Linked DNA regions of Homo sapiens: region 2 is linked to region 1. Evidence: fine-mapped expression QTL. A gene starts in region 1. The other region holds a variant in brackets. All regions are shown on one strand. Distances are between the middles of the regions.

The links. PIP is the estimated chance that this variant, and not a neighbour inherited with it, causes the effect.
Region 2: its variant is fine-mapped to the expression of CRYGN in whole blood (TOPMed, PIP above 0.99).

What each region holds. Positions count from the first base shown.
Region 1 is chr7:151,437,137-151,446,110 of GRCh38, reverse strand. It overlaps CRYGN (crystallin gamma N), which reads left to right and starts at 5,970. Exons shown (of 4, transcript NM_144727.3): 1 at 5,970-6,214; 2 at 7,867-8,115. The coding sequence starts at 6,194. RefSeq lists enhancers at 4,942-5,478, 6,190-6,690, 6,691-7,191, 7,553-8,402.
Region 2 is chr7:151,394,192-151,403,390 of GRCh38, reverse strand. It overlaps WDR86 (WD repeat domain 86), which reads left to right. Exons shown (of 6, transcript NM_198285.3): 2 at 3,150-3,291; 3 at 7,195-7,615. Among named protein-coding and RNA genes, the nearest start is that of WDR86-AS1, 10 kb to the left of the region's middle. The variant C/T (reference allele first, on the strand shown) is at 5,346.

The DNA of each region.
Region 1 (8,974 bases):
AGGATGCCTTAGCCCAGTTGTTTGGGGCTGCATTGAGCTATGATCGTGGCACTGCACTCTGGCCTGGGTGACAGAGTGAAACTCTGTCTCTAAAACAAAGAAACACTTGCACACACACAGGCACACACACATAATCAATAAGGAAAGACAGAAAAAAATGAGCAAAGCATATGAACAAGCAATTTACAAAAGATCCAATTCAAATGAACGCTATACATTTGAACTGATGTTGAGCAACTGGCCTTGGAACTACCAAGGGTAGATCTCATCTGTATGTCAGTGGGGCAATTTGGAAGACCTCTGTGGCATCTAGTGGCTTGAAGGTGAACTCATGCTTCAACCCAGCAATTTCACCCAGAGGCATGGGCCTCAAAGGAGGCAGTATTGGTCCCAGGGTGTGGTTGGAATTTTGTAGGGTGTTTCTGTTTGTCAGAATGCTGGAGGATGGGTGGGCAGGCCCCAGGATGCTGGATATCCCACCACATCCAAGGAGACACTGTCCCACAATTTCCCCTAGAAACGCATAGTATTTTTTGTGTGGCTTTAATATATACTGAAGATTTCCTGGTATGCAATTTATTAGATATATAAATGGAAGATTTTACTTAGTTTTCTGAGGAATTCTACTGAGCTTTGTTCATTCACCATTTCAGAAACTCTTGTCACTAAAACAAAAAACCAAATTGCAGAAGGCTACATATAATGTAGCCACACTAAAAATTTTCTATTATTTACAGATACATACAAAGAAAGTAAAAAGATGAAAACACACAAAGACATAACACAAAAATCAGGACAGTATCTTATCCTTATGGGGAAGGAAGCCTTCAATTCTATGTATAATGATTTCTTATTTTAAGGAAAAACATTGATCCGACATAAACCTGGCAAAATGCTAAGATTTGACAAACTTTGTATGGTGGTGTTATTGTTCCTTATATTATTTCCTATTCTTCTCTGTGCTCTAAATTACCCAAAAACGGGAGAGACAAGAGGCAGAGAAGGGAGGCAGGCAAACGGGTGATGGCTCAGGGTGATTTATTATTAAAACCATTAGCCTCCACGCTGTAAAACTCTCCAATGCTGAGCAGCTACTGGTAGTTCTAAGGCTACATGTTATTGAGATTTTATTTTTTAAGCCATGATAGCATTCTTAGCCTTGCTTCTTCTGTGCTGTCACGATATTTATTCTCAGTCCATTTCCTTAGAATTTTGTCCCCAACTAGCAGCTGTATAGTGACTCAAGATCTCACCTACCTCAAGGTACATTTTAACAGTGCTCTACCAAAGATGACTCAAAAAAATGACTCTGATGTTGAGGTTTGGTGATACTGGCATTTGCATATTATGTAGCTATTTTGGGGAGGGGTTCTACCTGGCCACAAATAGATAATATGAATCTTAGCAGACTCCTCCTCTGGTAACTGAATTATAATAAAATCCCAGGTGGGAATTGAGATATTGCATTAGAAATAGGGAATGGAGGTGAAATTTGCAGGTATCTTATTCATCTACCCATTTTTAATAATTCTTTGCGTGGGGCTTTCAGCTAGGCATTTTTTCATATATATTTCTCAGAAAACACCCCAAATCACTGCTTCTGTTTTGGATTCTGTTGTCATCACCTTTTTGGGTTGTCTGTGTGCTCTGGCCCTGCTGTGATGAGGGCAAATACAAATTAAAAAGAAGAAGTTCAGCTGGGCACAGTGGCTCACACCTGTAATCCCAGCACTTTGGGAGGCCAAGGCAGGCGGATCACTTGAGGTCAGGCATTCAAGACCAGCCTGGCCAACGTGGTGAAGCCCCATCTCTACTAAAAATACAAAAATTGGCCAGGCGCGGTGGCTCACGCCTGTAATCCTAGCACTTTGGGAGGCCAAGGCAGGCGGATTGCCTGAGCTCAGGAGTTTGATATCAGCCTGGGCAACATGGTGAAACCCCATCTCTACTAAAATACAAAAAACTAGCCAGGCTTGGCGGCGTGTGCCTGTAGTCCCAGCTACTCGGGAGGCTGAAGCAGGAGAATCGCTTGAACCCAGGAGGTGGATGTTGCAGTGAGTTGAGATCACGCCACTGCACTCCAGCCTGGGCAACAGAACAAGACTCCATCTCCAAAAAAAAAAAAAAAAAAAAAAAAAAATTAGCTGGGCGTGGTGGCACACACCTGTAGTCCCAGCTACTGGGGAGGCTGAGGCAGGAGAATTGCTTGAACCTAGGAGGCAGAGATTGCAGTGAGCTGAGATCGCATCACTGCACTCCTGCCTGGGGGACAGAGCAAGACTCCATCTCAAAAAAAAAAAAAAAAAAAAGCTCTTAAAACAACAATGAGACACCACTGCACACTTATTTGAATGGCTAAAATCCAAAACTTGATAGCACCAAATGGTCAGAATGAAAAATCATATAGCCACTTTGAAAGAGAGTTTGACAGTTTCTTTTTATTTGATTTGATTTTGAATTTTTTAGAGACAGGGTCTTGCTATGTTGTCCAAGCTGGTCTTGAACTCCCGGCCTCAAGTAATCCTCCTGCCTTAGCCTCCTGAGTAGCTGGGATTACAGGTACAAGCCTCTGCACCTGGCTTTTATTTTTTTTTCAGTTTGTTGCACAACTAAACATACCTGTAACATATGATCCAGCAATCCCACTCCTTAGTGTATAGTGAAAGGAGCACACAAAAATCTACACGTGGTTGTTTATAGAAGCTTTCCTCATAATTGCCAAAACTTGGACACAACCAAAATGTCCTTCCATTGATGAATAGATAACTAAACTGTGGTACTTCCAGACAAGGGAACATGATTCAGCAGTAAAAAGAAATGAGAGACTAGGCCAGGAAAAGATATGAGGGAATCTTAAATGCATATTACTAAGTGGAAGAAACCAATCTGAGAAAGCTACTTGCTGTCTTAGTCCGTTTTGTGCCGCTATAACAGAATACCACAGACTGGGTAATTTACAATGAACACAAATGTACTGGCTCACAGTTCTGGAGGCTGAGAAGTCTAACATCACGGTGCTGGCATCTTTCAAGGGCCTTCTTGCTGTATCATCCCATGGGAGAAGGGCAAAGAGAGGGTGAGAGAGAGCAAGCGGTTGACCTTGTAGCCCTTTATGGTCAGCGTTAATCCATGAATGAGGGTGAAGCCCTCATGACCTAAACCCTTCCCATGAGACCGCATCTTTCAACATTGTTGCATTGGGGATTAAGTTTCCAACACATGTGTTTTGGGGGACACGTTCAAACCGTAGTAGCTACATACTGTAAGATTCCAAATACATGACATCCTGAAAAAGGCAAAACCGTGAAGATAGTAAAAAGATCAGTGGTTGCCAGGAGTTAAGGGGGAGAGAGGGATAAACAGATGGAGCCCAGGGGACTTTTTTTTTTATCTTTTTTTTTTTTTTTTTGAGACGGAGTTTAACTCTGTCGTCCAGGCTGGAGTGCAGTGGCGCAATCTTGGCTCACTACAACCTCCACCTTCCAGGTTCAAGCAATTCTCACTGCCTCAGCCTCCTGAGTAGCTAGGATTACAGGCGCCTGCCACCACGCCTGGCTAGTTTTTGTATTTTTAGTAGAGACAGGGTTTCGCCCTGTTGGCCAGGCTGGTCTCAAACTCCTGACCTTAGGTGATCCACCCGCCCCGGCCTCCCAAAGTGCTGGGATTACAGGTGTGAGCCGCCGTGCCCAGCCCACACAGGGGACTTTTAAGGTGGTGAGAATACTCTACCTGGTGCTCTAATGGTGGAACCATGGCATTACACTGTAGAGGCAGCAAAGTTCTACCTCCATCCTCTTAGGGTCCTGGCTGGGCCTGAGAAATAAATTGACCTAAGACAGATTAACAAGAGAAAAGCATACAAACTTATTTAATACAAGTTTTATGTGGCATGGGAGCCCTTATAAGGAGATGAAGACCCAAAGAAAAAGTTAAGAGTCAAACACTTACATACTCAACTGGACAAAGAGTAGCAAGCTGTGAAAAATCAACCACATTATGTGGGGAGGCTTTAAAAATGTGTTATTTTAACAAAGTCTACGCCGCATTCTCTCAACTTCTCATCCTGTATCCCGATGTATAACATAGGTTCATCGGCTGTGACAAATGTACCACTCTAATGGGGGCGCTGATTGTGGAGGAGGCTCTGTGTGTGTGTGTGTGTGTGTGTGTGTGTGTGTGTGTGTGTGTGTAGGGGCAGGGGGTATACAGGAAATTGCTGTACCTTTTGCTGAATTCAACTTGAACCTAAAGCTGCTCTAAAAAATAAAACCTTTTTTTAAGGCTTATTTTTCCCTGTTGAAAATAAGGGAAGAGGCTTCCCTTTCCTCCCTTTTCTTGCAGAATTTCCTTCTCTGTCATTTTCAAATGTGTGTAAATCTTTTTAATGGCTAAACAAGCCTCTTGCCAGTCTAACAACTCAGTCATGTTTCCTCTGGGAGCCTCTTTGAGTCTTGACATCAAGGAGTAAGTGCCCCCACCCTCCCCGTTTCCTAAGAAGCCTGACTTCAGCTGTCACCTGACTCCAAATTGCAAAACCCACCTCCAGTCATAGAGATACAAGAAAATCAGCAATTTTATCCTGAAAACATGAATGCAGTGGGTTGTGTCTGCTTGGCTACAGAAGAGTGAGATCTCTCTCCATCTTTGCGATCTCTTAGGGGAGAGATCGTGATGCAGATCGCATTCCAGTTTAAAGTTTATTCAATAATAAAATTGTTTTTTTTTCCTTCTACCTTCGTGGAGAAGTTTTCTGGGTTGGCTGGAGATTTTGTTTTTAATTTTATGTCCCCACCAGGGCCCAGGTCCAGAGAGAAACATTGGAATGTGTGGCTTGGCAAGTAAGGGCGCCAGTGGAGGCAGCTGGGCGGCGTCCCTAGGGAGGGGCGTCCCTAGGGAGGACCGTCCCTGGGTTCAAGGGTGACATGCAGGTTCTGGTTTGTACCCTGTCTACTTTTGAAAACCTCCCACAGCAGAGGCAAGGTCACCCCTCTGCCCCAAGAATCACATAACCTCCTCTTCCTGGGCCTCAGTGTCTCATCTGTGAAATGGTCATAAAAATATACTGTTTGAAGGAAGAGCAGCCCAAACTCCTCCCCAAAGCTCCTCCCTCCCCTCCAGCAGAAGCCCCTGTGGAGCACCTGCCCCTCTCTCCTTTGATCTCAGAGCCTGTCCCCCACCACCCCAGCCATCTGAGTCATGAGTCCTGTGTTCCCAGCTCATCTCCCCAGCCGTGTGGGGGCTGCACATCCTGTGGGCTCCATGTTCGCTCTGCTCACTCCACAATCTCTGAGCCTCTGCTGTCTGCCAAGTGCTCGTTCTGGGCCCTGGGGAACTCTCCCTCCGCGGTGGGGCTGCTTTGTGCTGTAAACTGATCCTGGGCGTCCAGGGTGGCTTAGTTGGTGCAGCAGAGAGGCAAGGGGCAGAGCACTGTACCCCCAGCTCAGGGCAGCGCGGGTCACCTGGTCACCCTAGGCAGGATCTTCAAGGAGAGAGGGACCCAGGGAGGGAGAGTGCCAGGGAGGGAGGCAGGCAGGAAGAGAGCGGGAGGAGGGAGGCCTGACCTGGCCTGGCGTTTTGTGGGGTGTGGGGGGGTGCATCAGGAGCTGGGTGAGTTGGAGCCGGAGGTCTAAGGTGGGGACCTGGGAGCTCAGACCAGAGCAGCCAGGGGAGGGGCGGTCAAGGGCTGTCTGTCTGTCCGGGGAAGCTTGGGTTGCATCCTCGTGGAGACAAACAAGTTGGCACCAAGGCGAGACTACCTGCAGCCAGGTGAGAAAGGGGAGTGGGCTGGGGAGCTCGGAACAGGCCTTGGGAGGGAGGGAGATGGGCGTGAGGGCTGAGGGGCAGCGCAGGGGAAGAAAGGTTGGAGGGCTAGAGAGACACCTCCCCTCCTCCCCCCACCACTCCAGGGCAGGGCAGGGGCAGCCGCGGGCTGGGCGGGAGGGCTCAGGGAGGAAGGAGGCTCGGGAGCTAAACGCGGAGAGCACAGGGAGACCCCGGGCAGGGCGGGCTGCACTCGCGGTGGCACAGGGTGGCCGCGGCGGGTCCCAACCGCCTGGTGGCCCCTCGGGCTTAGCACGCCCGACAGCACTAACGCTCCGGGGCCGGCCCAGCAAATCTTTTGTCCGGGGCGGCGCTGAGCCAGCAGGGCGCTGCCCGGTGTAAACGGGGACCCGCGGAAGGGGCGGGGCGCACCATGGCGCAGCGCTCGGGGAAGGTGAGTGCGTCCCTCAACCCCAAGGAAACCGAGTGGGGCTCCGCCTTCGCCCCCTGTGCTAGGGGATGCAGGAGGGTGCACACTGTTGATGGTGACAAATCCAAGGGAAGCTGGTTTAATTTCTTAATAAAATGGGGTGGCCTCGCTACTGGCCTGGGGCCTCTCTGGTGTGGATGGATAGGAAGGTCTCCATCTCCACTCCTTCCTTCTGGGATTCCAACCCCTCGCCCTGCAGTCAGGAGCAGGGAGGGTGTTCAGACTCCCTGGGGCTTCCTTGGGGTGGGGGAGGCTTGGCTTGTCCCACAGCCCTCCGCCCCACTGCTGCGGCTTCTTTGCCCAAGGCTGGCCTCTATGGCTTTTCCTTCCCAGGGTCTCTTCAGGGACACTTAGGGCTGGTTCTCTGAAAAATGTTGAGATTTGAGGGAGCCCCGAATCCCTTTGGTGCCCAGACCTCCCTGAAGGTTTCAGGGGCCCTCTACCAGCCGTGCCTGGTGCAGGAAGGACGGGAGACCTGGCTCTCCCTCGCCCTCTCCAGTGCCCCTAGCCTAGCCACTCCCATGAAGCCTTTGGTCTCCAAGGCCACATTCCAGAGTGTCTGGGGGTGACTGTGTTGCTGTATCAGTCTGCATGGGCCAGGTGATGCTTCAGTAACAAAGGGCCCCAGTAACTCTGGGGTGCAGAACGCCAAGGTGTCTGCCTCCTTTCCGGTGAACGCATGTGGCCACGCCTGACTCCAAGGGGCCTGGAAGGGCAATTCTCGTGTTCTTTTGAGCGAACTGGAGACACTGGTGAGGCACAAGCGACCATAGTGATGGGGAACATCACTGCACTCTGGCAGGACCCTTCTAGGGCCACAGTTCTTGAAACCCAAAGAGTTACTAAATGGTTGAGATTTTAGGTTCCACAGCAGGAAATGAGTCTGGCGGGTTGTTATTGCTTCACTTTGTTTTGTTTCGGGACAAGGACAACCTGTGAGTGCCACGTAGCTATAAGACACGATGTCTGAACTCCCAGCAGGGTGATGGAGCTCCAGATCTGATACATGCCTGCTACCCAAAGGAGTGACCTACAAAACACAGAGAGACAGGGTGGCACTTATAAGCCCTCTTTTGCGAACATTAATCCCGAGCCAGGCCCTGACGCGGCTTCGGCCCATTCAGCCTCTCCAGTGAAGGAGGCCCAATCCCAGGAACCCGAATTTCTGCAAAATATATGCTGGGTTACCATGAGAGGGTTGTGGGTGAAATTTCTTCTTTTGAAAACACCTCCTTTAATGTTATTATCGGCTTTATGTTTTAATAATTAAAAAATGAGTTAAAAATGCAGTGGAAGTTGAAAACAGCCCATTTTGAAATGGGCACCTAGACAAAGGGGAAACCCCTGTCCCCAAATCGCTGCTGAAATTTGTCTGCCCCACTGTGAGCTCCTAAGGGTGGGGAGGAACAGTAGCTGTGTATGGCATCAGCCTGCCAGCTGTTCGTTCTTTTGCCCAATTGGCAAATAGTGTTGGGCACCTACTGTGTGCAGCAGGTCTGGGCTTTTGGGGGCCTGGGAGTAGGGGTTCCATCCAGGGTGTTGGGACCCAGACGCCAGCCTCCAACGCTGACGGAGAGAAGCCCCTGACCCTGAGCTCTGTAACCTGCCCTTTCTAGATCACTCTCTATGAAGGCAAGCACTTCACAGGGCAGAAGCTGGAGGTCTTCGGGGACTGTGACAACTTCCAGGACCGGGGCTTTATGAACCGAGTGAACTCCATCCACGTGGAGAGCGGAGCCTGGGTCTGCTTCAATCACCCCGACTTCCGGGGCCAGCAGTTCATCTTGGAGCACGGCGACTACCCCGACTTCTTCCGCTGGAACAGCCACAGTGACCACATGGGCTCCTGTCGGCCTGTAGGAATGGTGAGTGGGCCCGTCCACCGAAGGCTGAGTCTTCCTGCTGGAGGGACCGAGGGTCAGCCCTGGCAGACAGTGGCAAGGAATCGGGGAGCGTGGTCCTCCCGGCTTTAAAGTCTGTAAGACTGAAGGAGCTATACCCAGAGCCACCTGCTGGCATGAGGTGAGTAGGTGGGGGGCCAAGTTGCTATGAACTGAGTGGGAGTGGCCCTGAGTTTTCATACAGGTATCAATAAACCACTTTAAGTTTCGGAGCCAAAAATCTAGCTGCATTTTCCATTTAAAATGCTGTTGAAATCATCCAAATTTAGATTTCCAGCCAGATAGGGGACACTCCGCCAATGGGAGGCTGATTTGGGCCTAGTGTGGCCACTAGTACAGGTGGTCTTGTGGCACATTCTGGAGCCTTCCATGTCTTGGAATGGCTGATGGAGGAAGCTGAAGAATCACCCGCCTGTCAGGGGAAAATTGGGGGGCAGGTCCCTTGGAATTACACAGGTAGCTGCCGCCCAAGAGGTGTGTGCAGGGAGGGCAGACGAGGGGCATGGCTCCCCGGTGGCGAAAGACTGTTTCGGTCCAGCTGCTCCTAGGGTGGGATTTAAGCAAGGCCGTTCCCCCAGGTCATGGGTACTCACTGACCTGCTGTGAGCTCTGGAGCTTCAGGTGGGGAGTGGCGGACTCCTGAGCCTGGGGGCGTGCATCTCTCATCACAGAGCGTCTCGCTTATGTCTGCTGAGGACCCTCCCCCGACGCCTGGGCTGGGTGGTTCTGGTGAACATCTGAGGAACCCCAGTAAAGGGGCCTTTGTGTGGTGCCCCCTCTCTTTTCTGTATCAGTTGCAAAACCAGCTGGGCTTTGGCATCTC
Region 2 (9,199 bases), 43 kb after region 1:
TTAATGTAATAAGTATGTCCCCCAAATGTGTGGATGTTTGAATTTGTCCATTGTCTCATCTGTAAAATGGCTCTTAGTTCTAACAGTCTTTTGATTTGACTTCCTGGTCCCCGAGTTCCTCAAATCCAGTGGGCCTTCCTGCCCAACACGTTCTGCACCTGTGGGTTCGTCTAACCACAGATGAAAAACATCCAGGAAAAAAAATTCCACAAGGCTCCAAAAAGCAAAATTTGGCTTCCCTGCTCACCAAGTCCTACACTGAATCCACACAAGTGAAGCGATGTGTAGCCATCGCAGTGGGTGTCATAAGTAACCTAGAGATGAACTGAAGTATGCAGGAGGATTGCATAGGTTATGGGCAAATACTACACCACAGGGACCTGAGCGTTGTGGAGTTTGGTATCTGCAGGGGATCCTGGAACTAATCCCTGATGGGTATTGGGGGCAACTGTATATATTGGGGGACAACTGTATACACACCATCTTTACCTGAAGGGCAGGCCCTACTAAGATCAGAGACCCTGAGGGCCCCCAGGGCTGCTAAGCAATGCCTGAGGCATAAACATTGATCTGGCAGCCAGGGTGATAGTCAAGCTATCTAACTGCACCCATGAGATAGAGTCCCAACCAGCTGGTGGGGTAGCTCAGGTGCTGAGACCCCAGACACCCTGGCATGGCCCTCCACTCTTGGCCCTCCATTCTGGCCACATCCCGGCCTCATCAGTCATCTCTACCGATCACTCAGACTCTGGCCTGGAGGTGCCCCATGGAGCCAGTCCCTGCACGCCTGCTTTCCTAGCCGCTGTTCTCCCTACGGGCACCGAGTCACCCTCTTCCTGGTCTCCAGTGCTCAGGCTTCTCTCCCGAGCCCCAGCCAGCCGCTGCCAGTGGGGTGCCGAGCCCTGCTGACCACATGCTGCCCTTGACTGTCTTCCCTTCTGGGCCTGGAGCTCCCTTGGAGGGCAAGGCTGTGTTTCATTGTCTCTGTGTCTATGTTAGTGTCCTGGGGCTGCTGTGACAAAGGAGGATGCTTGGTGCCTGGAAACAAGTGAAGTTGATTCTTCACAGTGCTGGAACCCAGAGGGCTGAAATGAGCGTCCCTGGGATGAAAGCAGGGTGTCAGCAGGGCCACATCTAAACCCTGCAGGGAACGGTCGGTTCCTGGCCTCTTCCAGCCCTAGTGGCTGCTGGCATTCCTGCGCTCGTGGCCACATCCATCTCTGCCTTCACCTTCACGGCCTCCTCTTCCGAGTATATCACATCTCCCTGGCCTCTCTCTTGTAAGGACATTTGTGGAGATATATATATATATATATATATTTTTTTTTTTTTTTTTTTTTTTTGAGGCAGAGTTTTGCTCTGTCACCCAGGCTGGAGTGCAGTGGTGCAACCTCAGCTCACTGCAGCCTCCGCCTTCCGGGTTCAAGCAGTTCTCTGCCTCAGCCTCCCGAGTAGCTGGGATTACAGGCGCCCACCACCACGCCCGGCTAATTTTTTGTATTTTTAGTAGAGACGGGGTTTCACCATCTTAGCCAGGCTGATCTTGAACTCCTGACCTTGTGATCCACCCGCCTCGGCCTCCCAAAGTGCTGGAATTACAGGCGTGAGCCACCGCGCCTGGCCACTTGCGGTTGTATTTAGGACCCCCCGGATAATCTAGGATAATCTCCCCAGTCAAAGTCTTTACCTCGTCACATCCACAAAGACCCCTTTCCAAGTAAGGTCACATTGACAGGTTCCAGGGATTAGGACCTGCTGTCTTGGGGCCGTCATTCTGCCTACCACAGTATCTCTCCCCAGTGTAAGGAAAATAGCGAACATGTGCCATTCCCTCTGCGGCTGCCTCTGTCCTCAGTCTGCGCTACATCCCGTGAGGCAGGCATTGTCCCCATCCCAGGTGAGGAAATGTGGAATGCAAAAGCTGAAAGGTTTGAAAAAGACTAAAAGGAGATGATAAAGAAATGAGGAGGGAAGGAGAGGAGGGAGGAAGGCAAGAGTGGAAGCTGAGGAAACAGAGGGTTTAGGGTGCAGGCGAGTGCCCCTGGATTGCTCCTGCTGTTGATGGCTGCTGTGAAACCTCAGTTCTTGTCTTCTTAGTTTAACAGAATTGAAACAGGAGACACACAGCAAAGGAGATGCAGCATAGAGCAATGTATTGCACAGGAGGAAGAATACCCTGAAAGTTAGGTGCAGAATAGGCAGGACGCCCCAAGAGGGGAGTCAGGGTAGGCTGCCTGTGAGGATGAGAGAGCAAAGACCGGCTGGAGGGAGGATCCCTTTTTAGGAGTCTTACCTGATTATTCATGAGCAGGTGGGCAAGGGGGTTGCTGGGAAGCATGTTCTGGGTGCTCATGCACAGTGGCTGTGCATCCCTGTTCATACGTCACATGTCTCACTGGCATCTTAAATCTCCATCCAGGGGTGTGTTTTTTACTATTGTAATGAGCAAAGGGTCACTGTGAGGACCGGTAAAAATCAAAGTGCACGTGCTCTCTACAGGGGAAAGTCCCTACTGAAGATAGCTTTGCTTGAATGAGCTTGCCTGCAGTGCGAATGCTGGGGCTTATTGTGTTGACGGCGCAGTCGCCATGGTTGCTGCGTCCTGAGGACATGGTTACTTCCCTGACTATCTGTCGTGCCTCACTGGTACCCCGTGCTTTCTGAGAATCACTCAGACTGAAGTCATTCTTTAAGAAGGATGAGTTGAGGGCTGGGCGCAGTGGCTCACGCCTGTAATTCCAGCACTTTGGGAGGCCAAGGCAGGCAGATCACTTGAGGTCAGGAGTTCGAGACCAGCCTGACTAACATGGCGAAACCCCATCTCTACTAAAAATACAAAGAATTAGCCAGGTATAGTGGTATGCGCCTGTAATCTCAGCTACTCAGGAGGCTGAGGCAGGAGAATCACTTGAACCCGGGAGGCAGAGGTTGCAGTGAGCCCAGATCGCGCCACTGTACTCCAGCCTTGTGACAGAGTGAGACTCTGTCTCAAAAAAACAAAACAAAACAAAACTAATGCTAATTGACTCCAGCTTGTCTCAAACACTCCCTACATCCTGCTTTCTTCCCTTTTCAAACATTGTTCCCAGAAGAAAAGCAGGAGCTGGCATCCCCAGTACGCTCACATCTCCCCTGTCCCTCATCTGCAGGACATGAAAGCTATGTGACCTTCTGCCAGCTGGAGGATGAGGCTGCCTTCACATGCAGCGCCGACTGCACCATCAGGAGGTGGGACGTGCTGACCGGGCAGTGTCTGCAGGTGTACCGAGGACACACGTCCATCGTGAACAGGTCAGCCTGGCTGGGGGCTTGGGCTGAGTCTCACCATACATAGGCTTCTGGTGGGGCTGAGGGGTCAGAGATATGGGCCCCTGCACGTGAGGGCCCTTGGCTCTCTGGGGAAGCAAAAACGTGGACAGCTGGGAGGTGGTCAGTAGCACCCAGCGACGTGGACCCAGGACAGGCAGCGAGCTCAGTGCCTGCGGCTGCATGTGGGGCAGGGAGGCACTGCCCATCCACTGAACAGAGCCTGATGCTTCCCCCTTGGGGGCACAGTGGCTCCCCGCTGGGTGCAGGGAAAAGCACCAGAGCCTACAGCTCGTAGGGATGGGGACAAATTCCATAGGAAATGGCTTAATTGAGACCCGATGGTGGACCAAAGGTTTGCAGGAGGAGGAGTGTGGGGGATTGTTCCGAAGACGGAGTTGAGGATATTTTTAAGCCTCTCCTTTCTTTGTAGCTGTGGAAAATATCCCAGCCCCTCCTTCTCAAGAAGGTTGGAATTGTTCCTTTCTCAATGAATTTGGGTCTGAGCTGAGCAATGGAAATTCCTTTGCTGATCAGATCAGTTGGACACTGTTGGAGTCACTTGTGGTGGTCACCTCGGACTCCCGAGGGAGGCCTCCTGGCGCCCCTGGGCCTGGCAGCTGCACTGGAGGAGGGGCGCTGCCTGGAGGGTGACCCAAGTAAAGACAGGGCTGGCGCAGGCTGGCACGAGGGGGTCCTGAAGGTGGGGCTGGGGGCGCAGACCAGACAGGATGAACCCCACCAGAGGAATGCTGTTGGTTGAGCTCTGACAGGAACCCCCAGTCAGTGGACCAGCGCATGGGGGGACAGGAAAGGCAGTGAGACCCATCAGCCCAGCTCGCTGGAGTCGCAGGTGGCTGCAGCCAGGAATAATAATCGATAGTCGATGGACGGGGAGCTGGGTGACACCCTGAGGAGGAGGCTGAAGGGATGCGGGGACTTTTTAGAGTGAATGGGGGGTATATGCAGACACAAGGTAGGGTGGCCGTCTGGCCCCGGCCTTCCTCAGCTGAAGCAGGTGAGGCCCTGAGACCTGCCCAGGCAGCCCACAAGGTGGTAAAGAAGGGGCTAGAGTGAGAACTCAGGGCTCACAGCTCCACTGGCCTCTTCCCAGCACTCTGACTTCCCTGAGAAAGAAGTTTGCCATGAAAGAAGAGAGTAGGGCTGGGGGAGCGCCCTCCTGTGAGTCAGGCAGAGGCTGCAATGGGCTCAGCGGGGAGAAGGCCTGCCTGCAGTGACCAGTGGGCCCTCAGCTGCCAAACCCACAACTGTCAGATGCTTCTCAAAAGCAAAACTGGAACATTAAAGGTAGAAATCATGCTCGGCCAGATTTACTCTCACATGTGCACACACAACTTACACATACACATGTGCGCACACACACAACATACATATACACCATACACACAACTTACACATATACACGTGCATACACAACATACATACACACTCATACACAAACTTACACATACACACGTGCGCACACATACATATACACATACACCATACAAACAACTTACACATATACACGTGCATACACAACATACATACACACTCATACACAAACTTACACATACACACGTGCGCACACATATACACATACACACCTTACACATACACATGTGCACACACATACACTCATACACAACTTACACATGTGCACACACGCACAACATACATATACACCCATACACACAACTTACACATACACATGTGCACACATACACAACATACATATGCACTCATACACAACTTACACATGCACATGCAACTTACACACATACACACAACATACATATGCACCCATACACACAACTTACACACACATATGCACACACAACACACACATGCACACACATAGACACACAACTTACACAAGCAACAAAACATACACATATACACACAAAGTACATGCAGGCACACATTGTGCACACAACACACATGCACATATACACATATGCACACATGTTCACATGTGCTCACAACATATACAAACACACACACTATTTTGGATCGGTCACAGCTCCAAACCCATAGCT[C/T]TGTGTAGATATTTGCATGATTAAGTAACTGTCCTCATAAATCAGGAACTCACTTCCTCCCGAGTTTTCAGAGCCAGGTCAGGCCTGTGAGCTTTGGGGTCACCGATCGTTCAGTGGCCTGGCATCCCTGCCTTCTCACACCAGGCAGGACTCAGCCACCCCCTCCATACCCCAAGGCCTCCCGCTACACCCTTCCTCCCGCTATGCCCTTCCTCCCGCTACACCCTCTTCCTCCCGCTATGCCCTTCCTCCCGCTATGCCCTTCCTCCTGCTACGCCCTCTTCCTCCCGCTACACCCTCTTCCTCCCGCTACACCCTCTTCCTCCCGCTATGCCCTTCCTCCCACTACACCCTCTTCCTCCCGCTATGCTCTTCCTCCCGCTATGCCCTTCCTCCCGCTATGCCCTTCCTCCCGCTACACCCTCTTCCTCCCGCACTTTGCAGCAGCAGCATCAAGGCATCATTTCCTTTAAAAATACACGTAATCCCAGCTACTCGGGAGGCTGAGGCAGGAGAATCGCTTGAACCTGGGAGGCAGAGGTTGCAGTGAGCCGAGATCGTGCCACTGCGCTCCAGCCTGGGCGACAGAGTGAGACTCCGTCTCAAAATAAATAAATAAATACATGTTTTGTGACAATCATCCTATCTGGGTCTCAGGGAAGAAGCCAGTTGGAAAGGGATAGTTGGCATTTGAGTGGAGTCATGTGTCGTTGAGCTGCTTGCGGGAAGTGAGGAATGCTGTTGGGATCCTGTGGAGGCGGGAGGCAGCAGGCTTGTCCCGAGTGGGTCTCCTGTCCATGCCAGGCTGGCCAGCAAGCCCTTCGCGGGAGGACGGGAGGAGCAGCAGGGCCGGCCGTGGTCCTGATTCAGGAGGGTCCCACCCCGGCAGGGATGCACCTTGTTACAGTGCAGCCACGGCCGCACCCCTTGGCGGTCTCCTCTCCTGAGGTGCAGGGCTTCTTACCAAGGGTGTGTGCTCAGACCTTCTGAGGTTCTGTGCAAAGCTCTGCACTAAAGACAAATGTGTGTTTTTCTGGGGAGTTCTTGGCTTCCATCAAAATGAAAATAAGAGTCGTGAATACAATGTGGGGGCCTTGGTCTCCCATGTTGGTCAGTTGCACTGAATGGATGGACTCTCTTGGCTACCCAACCCCCAGTTCCCAGCCATGTGGCTAGAACCCTGTTGAGGCTGTGACCTCAGTCTGCATGGGGATTGCTGTGAGAGCTGGCAGCAGAGGCCCCCACTGGCTGTAGCGTGACCCCTGGCTGTGCCTCCCACAAGCACCCCTGGGTGCACTATGGGAGTTCCCAGTGCTCTCCAGCTTCTCAGGGCCCTCATCTGAAGTGCCCTGCCCAGCCACTTGAGCCGGCCCTGTTCCCAGGGTGACCAGCGTGTCCCACTCTGCCCTGGACTTTCTCAGTCTTAGGCTGAAAACCCTAAATCCCCAGAAGCTTTTCAACTCCGGGCAAGCTGAGAGGGCCGTGCTCCCCTACCTTCCCCCCCACCCGCTTCCCGCTGCTCCCCTACCTCCTCCCCCATCCCCTTCCCGCTGCTCCTGCAGAGCTGCTGTGGGGATGCTGGAGGGATCCCAGCGGAGCATCTAAGCTTGGTCCCTGCTACAGGTACATGCCCAGGGGCAGGCAAGGAAGGGTGGGCATGAGGGGAGTCAGGGTAGCTTCCTGGAGGTGGGGGCGATTTGAGCTGGACCTTGGAAGACGAGTGTGGCAAGCTGGGCAGACACAGGGAGAGGTTATTTTAGCTGCAGTGCCGAGCATGGCATGTCGGGAGGCTGTGTGGATTCTGGAACCCGTGCCTTCTGATCCCTGACCCCTTCCCTCTTGCCCCCAGGATCCTGGTTGCCAACAACCAGCTCTTCAGCAGCTCCTATGACCGGACAGCTCGGGTCTGGAGTGTGGACAAGGGGCAGATGTCCCGGGAGTTCCGGGGCCACCGCAACTGCGTGCTGACCCTAGCCTACTCTGCCCCGTGGGACCTCCCCAGCACTCCCTGCGCGGAGGAGGCCGCGGCCGGGGGGCTTCTGGTGACCGGCAGCACAGATGGCACAGCCAAGGTGTGGCAGGTGGCCAGCGGCTGCTGCCACCAGACGCTGCGGGGCCACACGGGTGCAGTGCTGTGCCTAGTGCTAGACACGCCCGGCCACACGGCCTTCACAGGCAGCACCGACGCCACCATCCGTGCCTGGGACATCCTGAGTGGGGAGCAGCTGCGGGTGTTCCGGGAGCACCGGGGCTCCGTCATCTGTCTGGAGGTGAGACTGTCCTGGTCCCCGCCCAGCAGCCAGGGGAGCCCAGGTCACCCCCTGCACTGCCGCCCTGCCCTGGGTATCTGTGATTCGGCTGCATAACAAAGCGCTGCAGATGGGGGCCTGGCAAGCGCCACGGAGGCCTTGCGGTCCTGGGGCTGGGAATCCAAGATAAGGGGTCCGCAGTACTGGTTTCCGTGAGGCCTCTCCTTAACCTGCAGATGCTGCCTTCTCCCTGTCCTCGTGTGTGTGTGTGTGTGTGTGTGTGTGTGTGTGTGTGTGTGTGTCCTAATCTCTTCTTAGAAGGACACCAGTCATACTGGATTAGGGCCCCCCTATGAACTCATTTTAACTCAACTGCCTCTTTTAAAGACCCTCTTTCAAAAAGGCCACATTCATAGGTACAGGGGTGGGGTAGGGCTGCGACACGTGAATCTGGGGTGGGCATGATGCAGCCCATAACACTCAGCTTCTGAATCTGCATGCTGGGCCAGAGCTGGGGCGGAGCCTGCCTGCAGGGCGCCTGGAGCGGGTGTTGACTGTTTTCCTGGTTTGTCTTTGTGCTGTCAGGGTGAACGCCGGCAGCCTCCTGGGCTCCGTCCTCATGGGTTGGGGACTGGGAAGTGGCCCATCATGCTATAAGCTGACAACCAGGATAGAGGAAGCACATAGCGCTGTAATGGTGTGGCCGTGTGGGACGTGGGGTTGCTGCCCCGTCTCCGTTGCCTCCCCTGGACAAGCCACCCAGCCTCTGTGGGCCTCAGTTTCCTCACATGTACAGGGAGGATTACGCCCCTTCTTAATTCCTAAATCCAAAAAGTTCCAAAAATTGAGAAGTTTTTTCTTAAGCTTGGCACGAAAACGCCTGGTGGCAGAGTCTGGCCTGAAGAGACATGTGACTGTGTGTGCTTCGAACATCCCGGTGCCTGGGGGTTCTCACGCCTTTCCTGCAGATGCAGGAGTGTGTCTGTAAGCCAGAAAATCCTCGAACGCATTGTCCCAAGGTTTTAGATTAGGGATTATGGTATGAAGTTGCCCCGTCCGTGGGCTTGTGGTAGGGATTTGGTGAATCAATGGAAGATGCGTGAACAGTGCTGCCAGGCAGCCCTTAGCCGCCGCGACCGTGACCATCCCTGCTGCTGTTGCTGTGAAGGACCTAACGGTGTGCCTGGCCGGAGGACCTGTTGGGTGTGATCCCCCATGCTGGGGTCTAGATGTTCCTGGCTCAGTCTCGGCCAGCCTCTGCCCTGCTCCAGGGCAGGTCCGACCCCTGCGGCAAGCGGTTGGGGTGCATTGCTACCAGCACCTGATGCTCAGCGAAGCCGCAGAAGATGGGAGGGGCAGGCTCCGGGTGACGGGGCTGGAGTCAGGGCAGCCCTGATCAGGCTTCGCTGTGCTCAACCCCATAGGAGAGCCAGGCCAGGGGCCCCATTTGGGGTTGTAGGGGTAGAGGCGGCCCCGGGGCTCCAAGACCAGGGGAGCAGGGAAGGGCTCACATTCGCGTGGAGGGAGGGTCACCCAGGTCCCTGAGATGCTGGATGGGGCATGTAAACCCCATGTCTCTAACTCAGGTCCCACCTGAGGACATTG